2 separate regions of the Homo sapiens genome follow, and region 2 is linked to region 1. A link means that fine-mapping ties the variant in region 1 to the expression of a gene that starts in the linked region. Tissue or cell type: whole blood. Region 1 holds a variant in brackets; the other region holds the start of a gene. All regions are shown on one strand. Distances are from middle to middle.

Region 1 (8,107 bases):
AAATATTTAAAGTTCTTTCATGGTGTACACCACTCATTAGTATTTATTAACAGTTGGTTATTTAATATGTATGACCTTAAGATGTACAGAGAGCACACTAATTAAAGGAGCATACTCCAATTAAGAACTTAAATTCTAATAGACTATATTTGATACTAAAATAGTATTACTTCCTGTTTATTTCATTTTTTGTTTTATACTCATAAAGGATATTTCATTTTCCTCAGGAAAATGGCATGAAACATACTGGACTTAATGCTATTACCACTGGAGAAGGAGAAAATGGTAGCTTGACACATGAGATGCCCTGTAAATACTGTTGAATGAATGAATGATTAACAATTGAATGAATCTACTGTGTAGTTTCCTTTTACTTACAGACATTGAAAAATGTGTGACAAATCCAAATGTTTTTTGGTAGCTAGGCTATAAATGCTTTAATAAAAGAATATGTTGGTAGAAGAATCATAAAATCGGGTAACCTCTCTGTACAGTAGCATAGGTTTCAGCTACTATGACTGGTTTAGGCCGTTTGTCTAAGAGAGTTCCTTTGGGTTATCCTTTGAAAGGCTTCCTTTACTTCCTTGTTCCTCAAGGTATAGATAACAGGATTCAAAGCAGGTGTGACCATTGTGTACATGAGTGCAGTTGCTTTGTCTGTTTCTGGAGTGTGTGCAGTCTTAGGTTGCAGATAAGTGAACAAGGCAGTGCCATAGAACAGAGAAACAACCAAGATATGAGAAGAACAAGTGGAGAAAGCTTTGTGTCTTCCAGCTGCTGAAGGGATTCTCAAGATGGTCACAGGGATGTGCATGTGGGAGCACAGAATGAGGAAACAAGGACTCACAATAAATAGCACGGAGAGAGAAAACATCACAATTTCAATTTGGGAGGTATCAATACAAGCCAGTTTCAGTACAGGCATTATGTCACAAAAAAGTGTTGAATCTTTCCTGTTCCACAGAAAGGCAAAGTGAAGATCAGGGTGATCTGGGCTGACTCCACCACCACTCCAGTGAACCAAGATGCTGCAGCCAATTTCAAACAAACACGAGGGCCCATGAAGAGAGTGTAATGCAGTGGGTAACAAATAGCTACAAAGCGATCGTAAGCCATAGCTGCTAGCAAGCAGCATTCTGTCAGTCCCAAGATGGCAAATATGTACATCTGGGTTGCACAGCCACCCACACTTATGGTTTTGGTCTCCACCAGCAGGTGCACCAGCATGAGGCACCACACTGGTGGTATAGCACATCTCCAGAAATGAGAGGTTCACCAGGAAGAAATACATTGGAGTGTGCAGGGCAGGGGTGATCCAGATCAGGGAGATGATGATGATATTTCCTCCTATAGTGCATAAGTGATGATTAAGAACACAATGAAGAGTACAAGCTGTAATTCTTCTATAGAAGAAAAAGCCACAAATGTGAATTTGGCACACAGGGACTGATTTCCATCTATGGTGGGCTCAGAGCTAAACATCTGTGCAGACAACAAAGAAGGCAGGTTAATGGGAATGCAGTCACCTAACACATCTCTCTACTGAACCACAGCAAAGGAGCTTTCCTAGAATCAGTAGTCTGAGATGAGAATCTAGACACCTGGATTTCTTCTGTTAAATCTTTCTAAACTACACAATTACATCGAATACATATTTCTTCCTGATTTTAAGTTATGGATTATATGCAATTTTCACAAACATTTGGAAAAAACAATGGTTTTTAAGTTGCATATTCTGAATCTTTTGTTTTTGTCTTATCACTAATTATATACAGAAGCTATTATGCAAGCAATATATGAAGACTTATAATTTTAAAGGAGTCACATAAAAATTAATAGATTCAGATGTAAAGGTGTTATACTCTGGTCTTCCAAATTCTATAACCTTCCTTAAAGCTACACTTAAGGGCTTAAAAGGGAATATATTTCCAGCTGTTTATCTATGTATTTATGTACATATTTTACTTGATCTGAACAGAATAAGCAAATAATTACAAAGCTAAGATCCAAGAAAGCCAAAATCGACAGAATCTCCTTTCTACAACCTCAGTGTAAATTTGCAAGAAATTACAAATAGGAGAACATACCTAGAACCACAAGGTAAGCTTTCTTTTCCTTTTTGGGCTCCTAGACTTCCTATGGCTCTAAATTATAGCACAGTGATAGAATAGGCAGTATTTTTATTTCTACTAGAGACCATAGGGAATACATCCACTGTGCAGCTTAATTATATTTGTCTCAAGAGGAGTATATTAAAAACAATGAGTGTTTAATGTGCAAGTTGGTTTTCAGTTGTTAAAGACATTTCCAGAGATACCTATTGCTGTCAGTTATATCACCTGTTCCAATGCATAAAACTAAAAGTTGCTAATTGGAACCCATCATACAACTGAAATTATTATTAAACTCTATGGATGTTTGCCATAGTAATCCTTTTTAAGCTCCTCAAATGGACAGTGACTAATTAGGCCTTTGTAATATTGGTAGGCACAGTGCATGGAACATAGTAGCCTCCATAAACCCCCAAAATAGCATTCACTTTATTCATTATTTATTATTCAATTGCTAGCAGCATTAAAAAAATAGGCACGGGAAGAAAACCCCAAATTTCCAATGGAATTAATTAAAGTAATTGGTCAAAAACATTAAAAAATGTATTTTTCTTCTACTGTCTTCAAGAAATGAAAATATTTTTCATTCTGAATGATCCCCATTGCTCCATTCCGGACACATTTTCTTTTCACTGTCAGGTCAATATGGTAAATTCATTGGGACATAGAGTAAGGCAAGTAAAAGAGGTTACAAGATCGATCAGTTTTGAAACTAATGCGTTAGATGGGACTGCTATTCTCGCCTCCCACGATTCCCATGCCAAACCAAAAGGCAGGAGTTTTAGACATTGTCTCTCCCTCCTAAAAAAATATGTATGCTTTTTTTGTGCCACTCATGCTGCCTCAGAGATGAAAGCCATGTGTTTTGGGGAGTGCTCTTCCATCAGTGTGGAGGTACTGCCAGAATGAATATACCACATTGAGAATGTTTAGGTTGGTGCAAAATTAATTGCGGGTTTTTGCCATTACTTTGCACCAACCTAATATTTAAGAAAACGCATTCTATTTGATGGTATAGCATCCCTGAAATACTGCAGCAGAAGGTCACATCATGCATAATCAGTGATATTTTGCCAAATCTCCCCACCAGGGTCTGGGAGTAAGAGTAAGTACATAGCTGTATTTCTTTGATATGTTTTTGCCACAAAATACTTACAAAACAAAAACAGCTGCTAATTTCTCCACATTAATTCCCACCTGGACTCTGTGTTGTGTTTATTTCTCAATCTGATTCTGAAATTAGAGGAATTTTTTTTAAATATGGATACATGATTGGATGTGGGGTATTTAAGTGAGAATAGTAAAAAGTCCTCTCCTGCTGCCTCAGATCTGCTTTTATCCTGAGTAAGTGGGTAAGAGGAAACAATGTTTGGTGAGATAATGGCCAGATTAGTATATGCACTACTGATAATAACAACAACATATAGACTCCAGATTCCATCATGCTATCTATC[G/A]CACATCCTCCTAGAGTCCAGGAGTTTTTCAATGGTCCTGGAAAAAGTACTTGAGATGAAAGGGTGCATCTTATCTATGTGGTATTTTTGAAGGCAAGAAAAGAGAGTATTTAGGAAGGGAGTGATCAACTGCACCAAATATTTCTGAGATGGTGTGAAAAAATAGCTTTTAATTATCTGTTGACTTTTAGCTCCACACAGGCTATTGATGACTTCAGAAAAAAATAATTTGGAAAGAGAAGTAAGAACATGAACCAGAGTGAAGTTGTTTTTGAGGAAATAGAATTTTAAAAATGAAAAAAACCAGTAGGAGCAATACATTCTAGAAATTTGGCCATGAAGGGCAGGAGGAAGACAGGGTAATAACTGGAGAAAATGAAAGGACAGGACACAATGACTTATTGTGATTCACTACGTTTTTAAGATGGGAGAACCATGAGCTTTTTTATTTTTATTTATTTTTATTTATTTTTTTGAGATGGAGTCTCGCTCTGACCCCCAGGCTGGAGTGCAATGGCGCAATCTTGACTCACTGTAAACTCCGCCTCCAGGGTTCAAGTGATTCTCTTGCCTCAGCCTCCCAAGTACCTGGGATTACAGGCACCCACCACCGCGCCCGGCTAATTTTTGTATTTTTAATAGAGACGGGGTTTTGCCATCTTGGCCAGGCTGGTTTTGAACTCCTGACCTCAGGTGATCCGCCCACCTTGGCCTCTCAAAGTGCTGGGATTATAGGCGTGAGCCACCACACCTGGCCTTAATAGCTGGTGTGAAGGAGCCATCTAACACACAGCTTTTCTTTCCCGCATTTTGAAAATAAAACAGTACAACTTTAATTTCAGTTTTTGATTTTTGAATTAAAAGTGTAATTTAAAACTATGAGTATCTCATGGTAGAACAATTACAAATAAACATGTTTATAATATTAAGTCCTTGGGCTTACACTGTTTGATATGAGATGAGGATTCATTGTAATGTCATTCCAAAACATGTTTTATGAGAGTTAATTTATCCATCACTTGTAACAGTATGAAGATCATCTTTGTCAATAGAAATAATATGATCAACATAGCAGCTAATAGTTTTAGTGTTTACCATTTGTTAGATACATGTTTCACTATATAGATATATGTATATGTATCTCCTCATTTAATTTTTATAACAATTTTCTGAAAGAGTTATTGTTATCTCCATTATAAAGACCAGGAAACTTAAATATAGTCATTATGTAATTTCCCGAAGTATTATAGGTACAAAAGAGTAGAGTTGGGTTCTGAAGTCAGTTAATACCAGCATATATATTCTTCCTTTTATTTTATTGTCCTATGCTCTTTCTTCTAGATTAATTTAACTATAATGAATGATAAAAATTGTGTTAAGAAACACTGTGAGAATACCTAAATCTCTGTGATCAGATTACTAATAGAGATATATATGTTAAAGGCACTTCTGGTAAGGGTTTAGAAGGAAATAAATGGTGTGTTATTGGAATGTGAAGGAAAAAGCATCCTTGCTCTATAGTGGCAGAAAGTTTAGCAGAATTGTATCCTGCAGTTGTGTGGAAAGGAATCCTTAAAAATGATGGACTTGTATATTTAACTGAGGAAGTTTCCAAGTTTTGAAATCTCTTGCTATTTATACTAAATGTGAGAGGAGAAAGGATAAGTTGAGGTAAGAAATATCAAATGAAAAGGAATCAGGAGTTGATTTCAAAAAATGTAATGTTATCAAATTAGAGTCAATGTAATTTAGCAGTTAAGGGGAATGGGCTTTGGGGTCAGAATGCTTAAATATTTACCCTCATTCTCAACTTATAACTATGATTTAGGGCAATAAAAATCTTTTTTTGTGTGTTCATGTATTGATTTATAATGTGGCAATATAAATATTTTATGCTTAATTAAACTTTTGTAAAAATTAAAGGCATAGTGATATCAGGAACATGGAATAGGAAGCTCCTAACTCCCCCTCCACCCATGGATTCACCAAGTAAACATCTGTTCACACATCAGTTCCCTTTGAGTGAAAGTCTGAGACCAGTTGAGAGACTCCTATCCACTGGGAAACTGAGAAAACATTTACATTGAAGAGGTAGGAAAAACCAAGGCATACATGGACACAGACCCAGCTATAAGCACTGCACCATAAAATTGGGAATGAAACACCCAACATTCAGCTTCTCCCTGTGGAGAAGAGGGTCTGGACCCCAGTAGAGGGTCTTAATCCTAAGTTTCCCCTTGGTTTAACTTTTGAGTCATCAACTATGGGAATGGAGGATATCAGACACAAATGTGTCTCTCTAGACAGTAAAGAATAAAGTGGCAGTTTTATATGGGTGCACAGGCACTTTTAGATACTGCATCTACCTGGGAGCATTGCAGGAAATAAACTTAAAAAACAGTCCTTTGTTTCTCCCTGGAAACATCTCGAAAGGCTGCGTAGCCGTTGGATTTCTGCCTAACTTGCATTGGAGAATTAAAAAGATAGTCAATTCTTAGCCCATTTTCCAACCCTGGAGAAATTTGCACTAACACTTGATATAGTTTGGCTTTGTGTCCCCACCCAAATCTCATGTTGAATTGTAATCCTGAATGTTGGAGGAGGGACCTGGTGGGAGGTGACTGGATCATGGGAGCAGATTTTCCCCTTGGTGTTCTCATGATAGTGAGTGAGTTCTCATGAGATCTGGTTGTTTAAAAGTCTGCAGCACCTCCCACTTCTTGCTTCCTCCCTCTTCAGCCATGTAAGACATGTCTGCTTCCCCTTTGCTTTCTACCATGATTGTAAGTTTCCTGAGGCCTCCTCAGCCATGCTTTCTATACAGTTTGTGAAACTGTGAGTGAATTAAACCTCTTTTCTTTATAAATTACCCAGTCAGGTAGTTCTTGATAGCAATGCAAGAATAGACTAATACATACTGAAACGTCAAACTATCACTTCACTTAGGGACTGCATCCTAAATCTCCTGGATCTGAGAGCAGAAAGGACTGGCATGTACATATCTCTCTACACTGCAGAAAAAAGTGGTATTTCAGATACATACCAGTTTTAGATTATCTGTATTGCTCCAGATAAAATCCCTTGAGGCTTATGCAAGCAACTTCAGGGATTTTATCTCCCTGGAGCAATAAGGAGAATCTAAATCTCCTGGCTCTGGGAACAGAAAGGACTGGCATACATACGTCTGTCTACACTGCAGAAAAAAAGTGGCATTTCAGACAGGCATGCAAGCACCTCCAGGGAGTTTATCTCACTGGAGCAATACAGAAAAGGGGCTTAAAAAGATGCTCTCTCTGTGTTTTCCCAGAAGAAATAGAGGTCACACATAGAGAACAAAAAGTTCTAACTCTACTTCCCAAGAACTCCACCCTAAACCTAGTAGTTCTGGAAGCAGAAGAGATTAGGCATATGCAAGTCTCCCTTGATCACAGAACTGAGAGGTGATACTAAATGGGTATCCAAACACTTCCAGATGCACCATTCCCTTGGTACAGTGCAGAAAGGGGGCAGGAATGTGCACTCTCACATTCTTTCAATAAGGAGCATATAACACACACTCCCAGTGGCTACCTGATGGCCTGGTTTCTAATGAACTTATATTGAGAAGCTAACAGGACAAAGAAACAACAAGCTTTTGGTTGCCAAAGCAAGAGCGAGGTACTTTCTGAGACCTCTTCTCAGCTTACTCCAGAGATAAATCCAGGCCTATTCATTCTTTCTGGAAGAAATTTAGCTATGTATCAAATGCCACAACTTCCATAGCTCCCACCTAAGGAACTGTCTCCTTAGAGACCTAGCTTTGAAATCAAGGGGGCTTTGTGAATCTGAGTGACCCAAGACCACAGAAAACAAACATGTAGACATATAGTAGGACCATTTCCAGAAGCTCTCTGTCTAGGATAAGAAAATGTAGCCTGCATGTGAGAACAGGCATTTGCTGCAGATCCCCTTCCTAGTTTAGTGCAGAGAGACTACAAGATAAATGCCCACCATCATCTTCACCATGAAAATAGAAAGAACTAGAACACATATCAAAAACCTCAACCTTTTCAGCTTCATCCTAAGAGCTTAGCTCTTATACTGATAACAGAGTACTGACAAAATGTGACATGCCCTAAGCTCCAGAGGGCCACCAAAAACCAAGATAGCAATCTGGACAAACACACAGATTTTGGAGGCATCTTAAAATCTTTGGCCAGTTGAATTGGCAAAACCTTCTCATACACAAGACCAGTCTAACAAGATGAAGAGAGGTAATCTTATCTAATTTGCAGAAACCAAAAGAGGGAATCAAGGAAAATAAAGAAAGAGGGGATTATATTCCAGACAAAAGTACAAGTAACCATCCAGAAACAGAAACAAATACAAAGAACTAGAAAAGCAATAGCAAACCAAACTAAAAATAAGGCAAAGAAAAGGAATAATAAAGATCAGATCATAAATAAATAAAATTGAAACAAAATAATACTAAATATCAACAAAACAAAACTTTTTTTTGAAAAGTTAAACAAATTTGACAAACCTTTAACCAGACTAAGAAAA
Region 2 (8,107 bases), 530 kb after region 1:
CAGTAAGGAAAGGAAGGAATCAAGCATCACTCTAAGACAAACTCAGACCATCTCTTTTCGGTCTGAAAAAATAATCCGTTTAATTGAAAAACCTGGAGGATACTATTCCACTCCCCCAGATGAGGAGGCTGAGGAGACCAGACCCCTACATCACCTCGTAGCCACTTCTGATACTCTTCACGAGGCAGCAGGCAAAGACAATTCCCAAAACCTAGAAGGAAAGATGGGGACAGGGGTGGAGAGGAGTCAGAAGGGCTAGCTACCTCAGACCCATGCAAGAGACTCCAAACACACACTCCCAGGCCAGTACCTCCTGTTCAGCACCCTCCTCCCCTCAGCCCCTTCCCTCCAGGCACCCTGGACAGAGTCCCAGCCCCTGCTCAGGGTTATCTCTTACCTCGACAAAAGCAATTCCAAGGGCTGCTGCAGCTACCACCAGCACATTTTTCCTCAGCCAGCCCCCAATCTTCTCCACACAGCCCTGAAGGTGGCAGGCACAAAGGACAAAAGCACCATCAGAAACTTCCCACCCCAACCCCCTCCCTTGGTCCATCAGTCTCTTCCCTGCCCCTGTACCTTTCACCCCACCCTTAGCATTTCCAGATCCCCTCCCCATCCCTGACCCTGTCCACCTCCATCCTGGGTCTCTTGCATTCTAAAACATTTCCCAGGTTTCCCAAGTCCCATACACAGTCTCCTCCCTACCTCCTTATGGATCGCCTTCTCGTTGAAATTAATCCCACAGCCCACAGTAACATTAATGCAGCAGGAGTCGGGGACTCGGTTCTTCGACATGGAAGGGATTTTCTCCCAATCTGTGTAGTTAGCAGCCCCACAGCACTTAAACTGGGGGAGGGAAGAAATATGGAGAAGAAGGTTGTTAAGTGAACCTTCACCTTCAATATGGAGATGAGAATTCTTTTTTTTTTTTTTTTTTTTTTTTTGAGACAGAGACTTGCTCTGTTGCCCAGACAAGTGCCCAGCGGTGGCTCAATCTCGGCTCACTGCAACCTCCGCCTCCCGGGTTCAAGCGATTCTCCTGCCTCACCCTCCTGAGTAGGTGGGATTACAGGCACTCACCACCACACCTGGCTAATTTTTGTATTTTTAGTAGAGACAGGGTTTCACCACGTTGGCCAGGCTAGTCTTGAACTTCTGACCTCAGGTGATCTGCCCACCTCGGCCTTCAAAAGTGCTGAGATTACAGGCGTGAGTCACCACACCCAGCCTTGGAGATGAGAATTCTCTATTCCCACCACCCCTGCTCCCAGCAACCCCACTCACATCTGCCTGCATCCTGTCCAGGATCGAAGCAGTGTGGTTGTTTTTCGGGTAATTCTCCATCTGCTGCCGGAAGTTGTTATTAAACTCTGACATCACCTGAGAGTACGGAGGAGCACTGTTGCAGTCAGAATTCAAGCACCAGGGTCCCAGACCCGGCTGAGGCAGGCCCTTCCCATTATTCCCTGCTTACCTTATCTCTAAACACATAGCCAGCAATGGCTGCGGCCACCTCCACCAACATGATAAGAGACAGAAAGATGGCAAACTGCAGGAGCAAAGGACAGAAGTCAAGTTTGGAGTCTATGCATTACAGGGGCCCGTTTTGGCACAGCCGGTCCCTGGACACTCACAAAGGTCTTCCTCACCCACCCACCTCACCCACCTTCCTGAGCCCGAACCAAGCTGCTCTGGCAGTCCCAGACCGCCCATGTTGGTCCCGCCCCCAACTCACCGTGATCATAAGACAATAGTTCTCCTTGCAGGCCCCGCAGCAGCCCACAAAAGCCACCAGGAAGAGGAAGACACCCACTGCGATGATGACCACTGGCAACAGAGAGCCAGGGGTAGCCCCCTGGATTATGGTCTGACTCAGGACAAGCTGTGCCCCGACACCCACGGCAATCAGTCCCACTGCACAGGCCTAAGAGAAAATCAGGTGAGGATTAGGCCATATCCACAACACAGTGGCCCTCCATGGTGGAGGGCAGGGGGTACACCTAGGACACAGACTTGACCCCATCCGGAAGAGAGATTCTCACACCTCTAGGGAATTTCTTTGGCTGTGGGGTAGGGGGATGACCCATCCTTGCCTGCCCCTACCTCCCCTGATCCCCTCCCGGCTCTTTAATCAGGGACATGACCAAATTCAAAAACCTCCCAGAAAGCCTTGACCTCAAGACACGTATTTCTGACCTAGAATAATGCTTTCTACAGGCCTCCAGGGCTCCCAGCTCAATTCTCTCCCAGAACTGCCCCCTCACTATCCTCCAGTGCACATCCCACGCGCGCATCAGCTGTGACTAAGGTTCCTCTGGCCAGTTAGGCCAGGAGAAGGGAAGAGGAAAAGGGAGCAAGAGTGATGTGTCCCTCCCTAGACAAACAGTAGCCTCTCAAGCCAGGAGCCCAGGGCAGGAGCAAATTGAAGTGGGCAGAGCCCTTCCTCACCCCCAAGCGCTGGGAGGAGGGAAAGGGGGAGAGGGGCTGGACAGGGATGAGAGGGTTGGGGAGGGAGAGAGGGGAGAAGGGAGAGCGAAGGGAAGCCCCATGGCGATAGCATCAGGCGGTTGGCTGGTTGCCCCACTGCCCCATATCACAAGTGGTTGGGTCACCAGACAGGAAGGGCCAGGAGGGATGGGGGTAGGGGTTGCTGCACACCCAGGATGGCCATTCTCGGTGGAAACAAGCCTCAGGTGTCCAGGAAAACTGGAGGAGGGAGTGGCTGCGCTGTCTTTCCCTGGCTTTCTTTCCACATCTGGTCTCCAGCTGCCTTAATTCTCATTCCCTCAGCCCTCACCACTGTGGAGCCAGGTCTCCCCGCACCCTGCCGGCGCGCCCCCCAGGACCCCTCGCCACTCACGCAAAAGGCCAGCAGGAGGACGTAGAGCAAGAACTTCACACATTTCATTCCTCCTTCCACCGCCATGGCTGCCGGGCCTGGGGCAGAGGGGAGGGCGGGGGGATTAAAACTGGCCGAAGGGGGACCTCGGTTTCCGGGCTCCCGGCCGGCCCTCGAGGGCTTCCCTTCACGGCCCCGATTCCCGGCCCCTCCCACCCGGAAACCCGCGGTCGGATCCACGTCTCCCAGCCCCCTCTTTACCCGCAGGAGAGGGGTGGGGGCGACGGCCGCGAAGCCCGGACCCCGCCCCGCCGCCTCTGGGGCCCAGGACAGATCCAAGGGCGCCGGCAGGGGCTTGAGCCTGACGCCGACCCTCGGCCCGCCAGTCTCCGGGCGTCAAACACCCTTTCCCCACCCAACACCCAGCCTGGAGAAACGGTCTTCAGCCCAACCCCGACCCCCGCCCCAGCCCCTTTCCCCTGGGCTCTGACCTCCCCGCCCACCAAAAAAAAAAAAAGTGCAGCCAGCACCCCCGCCACACCCTGCCCGGGCCCAGGGAACTTCGAAGCAAAGTTGCTCCAGGGCGGCTGGAGAGCGCCGGACGAGTCTCCGCGGGCCTGGGGCGAGCCCTGGAGGAAGGGACTGCGGGTGGTCTCTCCCAGCCCGCGCCGAAGTCCGCCGGGTCCCCGCGGCCTCACCTGGGCTTCCCAAGGCTGGCTGCGCGTTCCTCTCCCGCCGCGGCTCCGGGGCTCTCTAGCTGCGCCCCCCGGCTCCCGCCCCGCCTGCCGCGCGGCCCCGCCCCGGGCTCCAGCCACGGTCCCCTCCCCCGCCGAGTGGCCGCCGGCCTCCCTCATGTGACGCGGTAACAGCTGCGGCCTGAGTCACTGGGCCCGGCGCGGGGTGGGCCGAGCCCCCCGCCCGGCCAGGGCCACGTGGCCCCTACCCGGAAGAAGGCGCCCACCCCCGCAAAGGGAAAGCCGCAAGGGCAAGACCTCGGGGCGCCTGGGGCCCCCCTCTGGCGCTATACCTCCGTGCCAACTCGGGGTAGGAGAGCGGGGCGGAGCGCAGCCTGGGTCACTCTGGTTCAGAGAAGCGGACGAGGTGGGTGAGAGTTACCCTCTGAGCGCCGGGGCGGAGAGCTGAGGCCGGGTGACAATGTGGTCTGTGAGGTTTCCCCATCCTACCGTAGGGGATGAGCCAGCTCTCTCCTCTGGCTCCAACTCTGTGCAAGCCCCCTCCCCATCCGACTGTGCAGACAGCTGGGGACTGCCTGGGGTCGGGTGGGGCCAGAACAAACACTTCCAGAAAGTCCCTGGCTCACATCCTGGGTGTCTCCCAACATTCTACAGCATTCTAGAGTGGGGATTTCTGGCCCCCCTCTATTAGCACAGCTTCTCCATTTTCCAGGGATCCTAGTCTGAGAAAAGGGGAGGAAGCCCTTCCCCGAAGCCACGCTACCCAGTCAATCAAGACACGTCCGCGTCGGGTCCCGCCCTCTGGGGGAGGATTGACAAGGTCTGTGCTTCCAGCCTCCCAGACAGCTCCTGCATCCGTCTGTGATAGCGAGGGCTTGGGGGAAGACACGAAGGCAGGAGAGGCTTACATCCTCTGGATTTCCCCGTCTTATCCCAGAAGACAAAGCCAGGTGAGGGCTGGAAGCGGGCTAGGGGGATCAAGCTGCCTCCCTCCCTTGTGTGCCAGGGGTGGTCCCCAGAAGGAGCTGATCTGAACAGGCCGGAGAGTAGGACCGGCCGTCACACCCCCACACCTCCAGCCTCGGCCCCACTCCTTGGGCTCTTAAGGTCCTGCCTCAAGAACCACTTCCTGAGTCTTAGTGTATGTGTGTACACAAAGAATGAAAGAAGTCTCTAGAGCTAAAGGAAGGAGATCCGGGCTGGGCTGAGAAGCATCTTCCAGGATCACGGCCTTCCCGCGGGACACACCAAGCCCATTCCGGATCTTGCTCTTCCTGACCATGGCTGGCAGGCTGTGGAGGAGGAGCGGAGAGCAGAAGAAAGGAGTATTCATCAGGTTCCTTATTGTGCTGCCACTAGATGCCAGGCATGTGCTAGGCTTGGGGGCTGCAAGGAGAGGAAGACAGCGGCCCTGCCCTCTGCTAGCAGGCAGAACCGAGTTCTGGCCACACTGTGAAGAAAGGCAGAAGCCTGCGGTGGCAGCTGGTTAAGCTCAGAGGGAGGGAAAGGGAGAGGAGAATGGATTTCACGGAGCAGAAGGATGTGCTCAAGGTGACCTTGGAGAATAAAGGGGAGAGCTCCAGGGACAGAGAAGCAGTCGACTGTGGAAAAAAAAGGAGCATTTTGTAAAGTACATGGCAGGTTGGGGTTGGCTGGCTCAAAGGGCTTGGGACGGATGTGGTGAGATGGGCTGAAGGTGGTCTGAAGATCAAGATTGAGAGACTAGATACATAACAACCAACTGCAATGTTTGGTCCTTCATTGAATGGTTGAACAAACCAGCTGTGAAAGACATTTTGGGACATACAGACATGGACTGAGAATTAGACATAAGAAAATTATTTTGTTAACTGTTATCATGGTTAACAAAACGGTCATATAATATGATTATGTAGAGAAGTTACTCTAGTTTTTCCTCTTTTTTTTTCTTTATTCTCCTATCAGCCAATGCATTTGTTACAGGAAAGGGGTCCCAATCCAGACCACAAGAGAGGGTTCTTGGATCTCATGCAAGAAAGATTCAGGGCGAGTCGCAGTGCAAAGTATAAGCAAGTTTATTAAGAAAGTAAAGTGGTGAAACAACAGCTGCTCCATAGACAGAGTAGGATGTTCCCCAAAGTAAGAGGAGGGGCTAGGCGCAGTGGCTCACCACACCTGTAATCCCAGCATTTTGGGAGGCCTAGGCAGGTGGATCACCTGAGGTCAGGAGTTCGAGACCAGCCTGGCCAACACGGTGAAACCCCGTCTCTACTAAAAATACAAAAAGTAGCTGGGCACAATGATGTGTGCCTGTAGTCCCAGCTACTCAGGAGGCTGAGGCAGGAGAATCACTTGAACCCAGGAGGCAGAGGTTGCAGTGAGCAGAGATCGTGTTGCTGCATGCCATCCTGGGCAACAAGAGTGAAACTCCGTCTCTCTTTTTTTTTTTTTTTTTTTTGAGACGGAGTCTCGCTCTGTCACCAGGGTGGAGTGCAGTGGTGCCATCTTGGCTCACTGCAACCTCCGCCTCCCGTGTTCAAGTGATTCTCCTGCCTCAGCCTCCCAAGTAGCTGGGACTACAGGCACGCACCACTACGCCCAGCTAATTTTTGTGTTTTTAGTAGAGATGGGGTTTCACCATATTGGCCAGGATGGTCTCCATCTATTGACCTCGTGATCCGCCCCCTCAGCCTTCCAAAGTGCTGGGATTACAGGCGTGAGCCACTGTGCCCGGCAAAACTCTGTCTCAAAAAAAAAAAGTAAGAGGAGGAACACATTCACCCTCGGTATAATGCTTGTATATATGGAGAGATGTGCTCTGCTACAAAAGTTTGTGATAAAGGATTAATTTTCTTAATTACTGTATTTTGTAAGAATCGATATTATCTTTTTTATTATTATTAATTTGTTTCCTTAACCATAAACATCTAGGTTTTTTGTTTTTGTTTTTGTTTTTGAGATGGAGTTTTGCTCTTGTTGCCCAGGCTGGAGTGCAGTGGCACAACTCACCACAACCTCTGCCTCCCAGGTTCAAGAGATTCTCCTGCCTCAGCCTCCTGAGTAGCCGGGATTACAGGCATGCGCCACCATGCCTGGATAATTTTGTATTTTTAGTAGAGCCGATATTGTGCCATTGCACTCCAGCCTGGGCAACAGAGCGAGACTCTGTCTCAAAGAAAAAGAAAGAAAGATGAAAATGTTGTGGAGATGGATGGTGCTGATGGTTGCACAATGTGTATGTACTCAATGTCCCTGAATTTTATGTTATATATATTTTACTACACACATACACACAAAGAATGGCCCACTTCTACAGCCTGGAAAGTTGACACAGAGCTCCATGTGTTTGCTGGGGTGCAGGATAGAGGGGCCTCTTAGTGGGAAGTGGCTGATCTCAGACCTGGCCCTTCACATCCTTCAGATCCCCCAGCACCTGTTCCAAGTGCCTGACATCCAGATATGCCACCAAGCCGTCCTGGCTGGCCCAGGCTGCTGCCTCTTGGTTGCCTGGCACCAGTTGGTGGTAGGTGTGCTGAGGCGGGGACCCTTGTCCCTCCACACCAAGCAAAGCCAGCTTTCCCTCCAGCTTCACCACGCCTCCACCTAGGCCCAGCGACACAGCATGGGGGCCACAGATGTCTCAAGCAAACCTGCAGCCTTCTGAGAGCATGTAGGCATCAGCCAGACCCAGTGCCATGCACAGCAGCTTGTAGCCTGCATCTAAGCACAGGAAAGGGTGAGGGGATATGAGGAGGGTGAGGGGATATGAGGAAGGTGAGGAAGAAAGAAGGGATCCAGAATCAAGGGAAAAGAACAGTTGAGGAGAGTTGGGAGAGGGGTGAGGAAAAACCGGAAAGTGAGAGACATAGAGGAGGGTGGGAGGCATGGGGAAGGATGGGGGAAGAGGAGGCAAAAATACATGAAGGATCAATGCTTCTTGGGCTTCAGTTTAAAAAACATTTTCTTTAATTTTTGAAAAATAGGTGTAAGAGAGGAGTGGGGAGAGGGAAGAGGAAGAGATAGGGATGGGAGGGAAGAAGGAAACAAGGATGCATCATCAAAGCCATCCCCCCACTGGGAGGGTAAGGAGAGTGGTGGATAAAATTCAAGGTCCAGAGGTTGGGTCTGAAATGGGGGCCTGAAATTTAAGTCCAGAGGCCTCAGCTTTGGATAAGGATAGAGGCACGGTGCTTGATGGCATCTCTCAGATCGCAGGGTGAAGGAGGGGCTGCACCTGCGCGTTTGCAGGTCCTGCTGGCAGAAAAGCTCATAGACCATCCCGCAGGGCTCTCCAGAGAGTAGGTTATATGCCCCAGCACCAGCACTGAGTGCAGCCCCCAGGGGAGTACTGTGCACGGGCTCCATGGCGACATCACCACTATGTATTTACTGGTTGGTGGAGACTGGGGAACACAAAGGAGTCTCCAGGCCAGGCGCGGTGGCTCACGCCTATAATCCTAGCACTTTGGGAGGCCGAGGCGGGTGGATCACCTGAGGTCAAGAGTTTGAGACCAGCCTGGACAACACAGTGAAACCCCATCTCTACTACAAATACAAAAATTAGCCAGGTGTGGCCAGGGCGGTGACTCACGCC

Evidence for each region. PIP is the estimated chance that this variant, and not a neighbour inherited with it, causes the effect.
Region 2: it holds the start of CD63, and the variant in region 1 is fine-mapped to the expression of CD63 in whole blood (INTERVAL, PIP 0.97).

What each region holds. Positions count from the first base shown.
Region 1 is chr12:55,193,335-55,201,441 of GRCh38, forward strand. It overlaps the pseudogene OR10U1P. Among named protein-coding and RNA genes, the nearest start is that of OR10A7, 24 kb to the right of the region's middle. The variant G/A (reference allele first, on the strand shown) is at 3,566.
Region 2 is chr12:55,725,416-55,733,522 of GRCh38, forward strand. It overlaps CD63 (CD63 molecule), which reads right to left and starts at 3,594. Exons shown (of 8, transcript NM_001780.6): 1 at 3,538-3,594; 2 at 2,861-2,937; 3 at 1,736-1,924; 4 at 1,475-1,549; 5 at 1,285-1,380; 6 at 706-846; 7 at 398-481; 8 at 1-211. The coding sequence starts at 2,926. The coding sequence ends at 146. CD63-AS1 (CD63 antisense RNA 1) reads left to right here and starts at 3,679. Exons shown (of 2, transcript NR_183514.1): 1 at 3,679-3,940; 2 at 4,247-5,437. RefSeq lists silencers at 2,991-3,290, 3,561-3,940 and an enhancer at 3,420-4,026.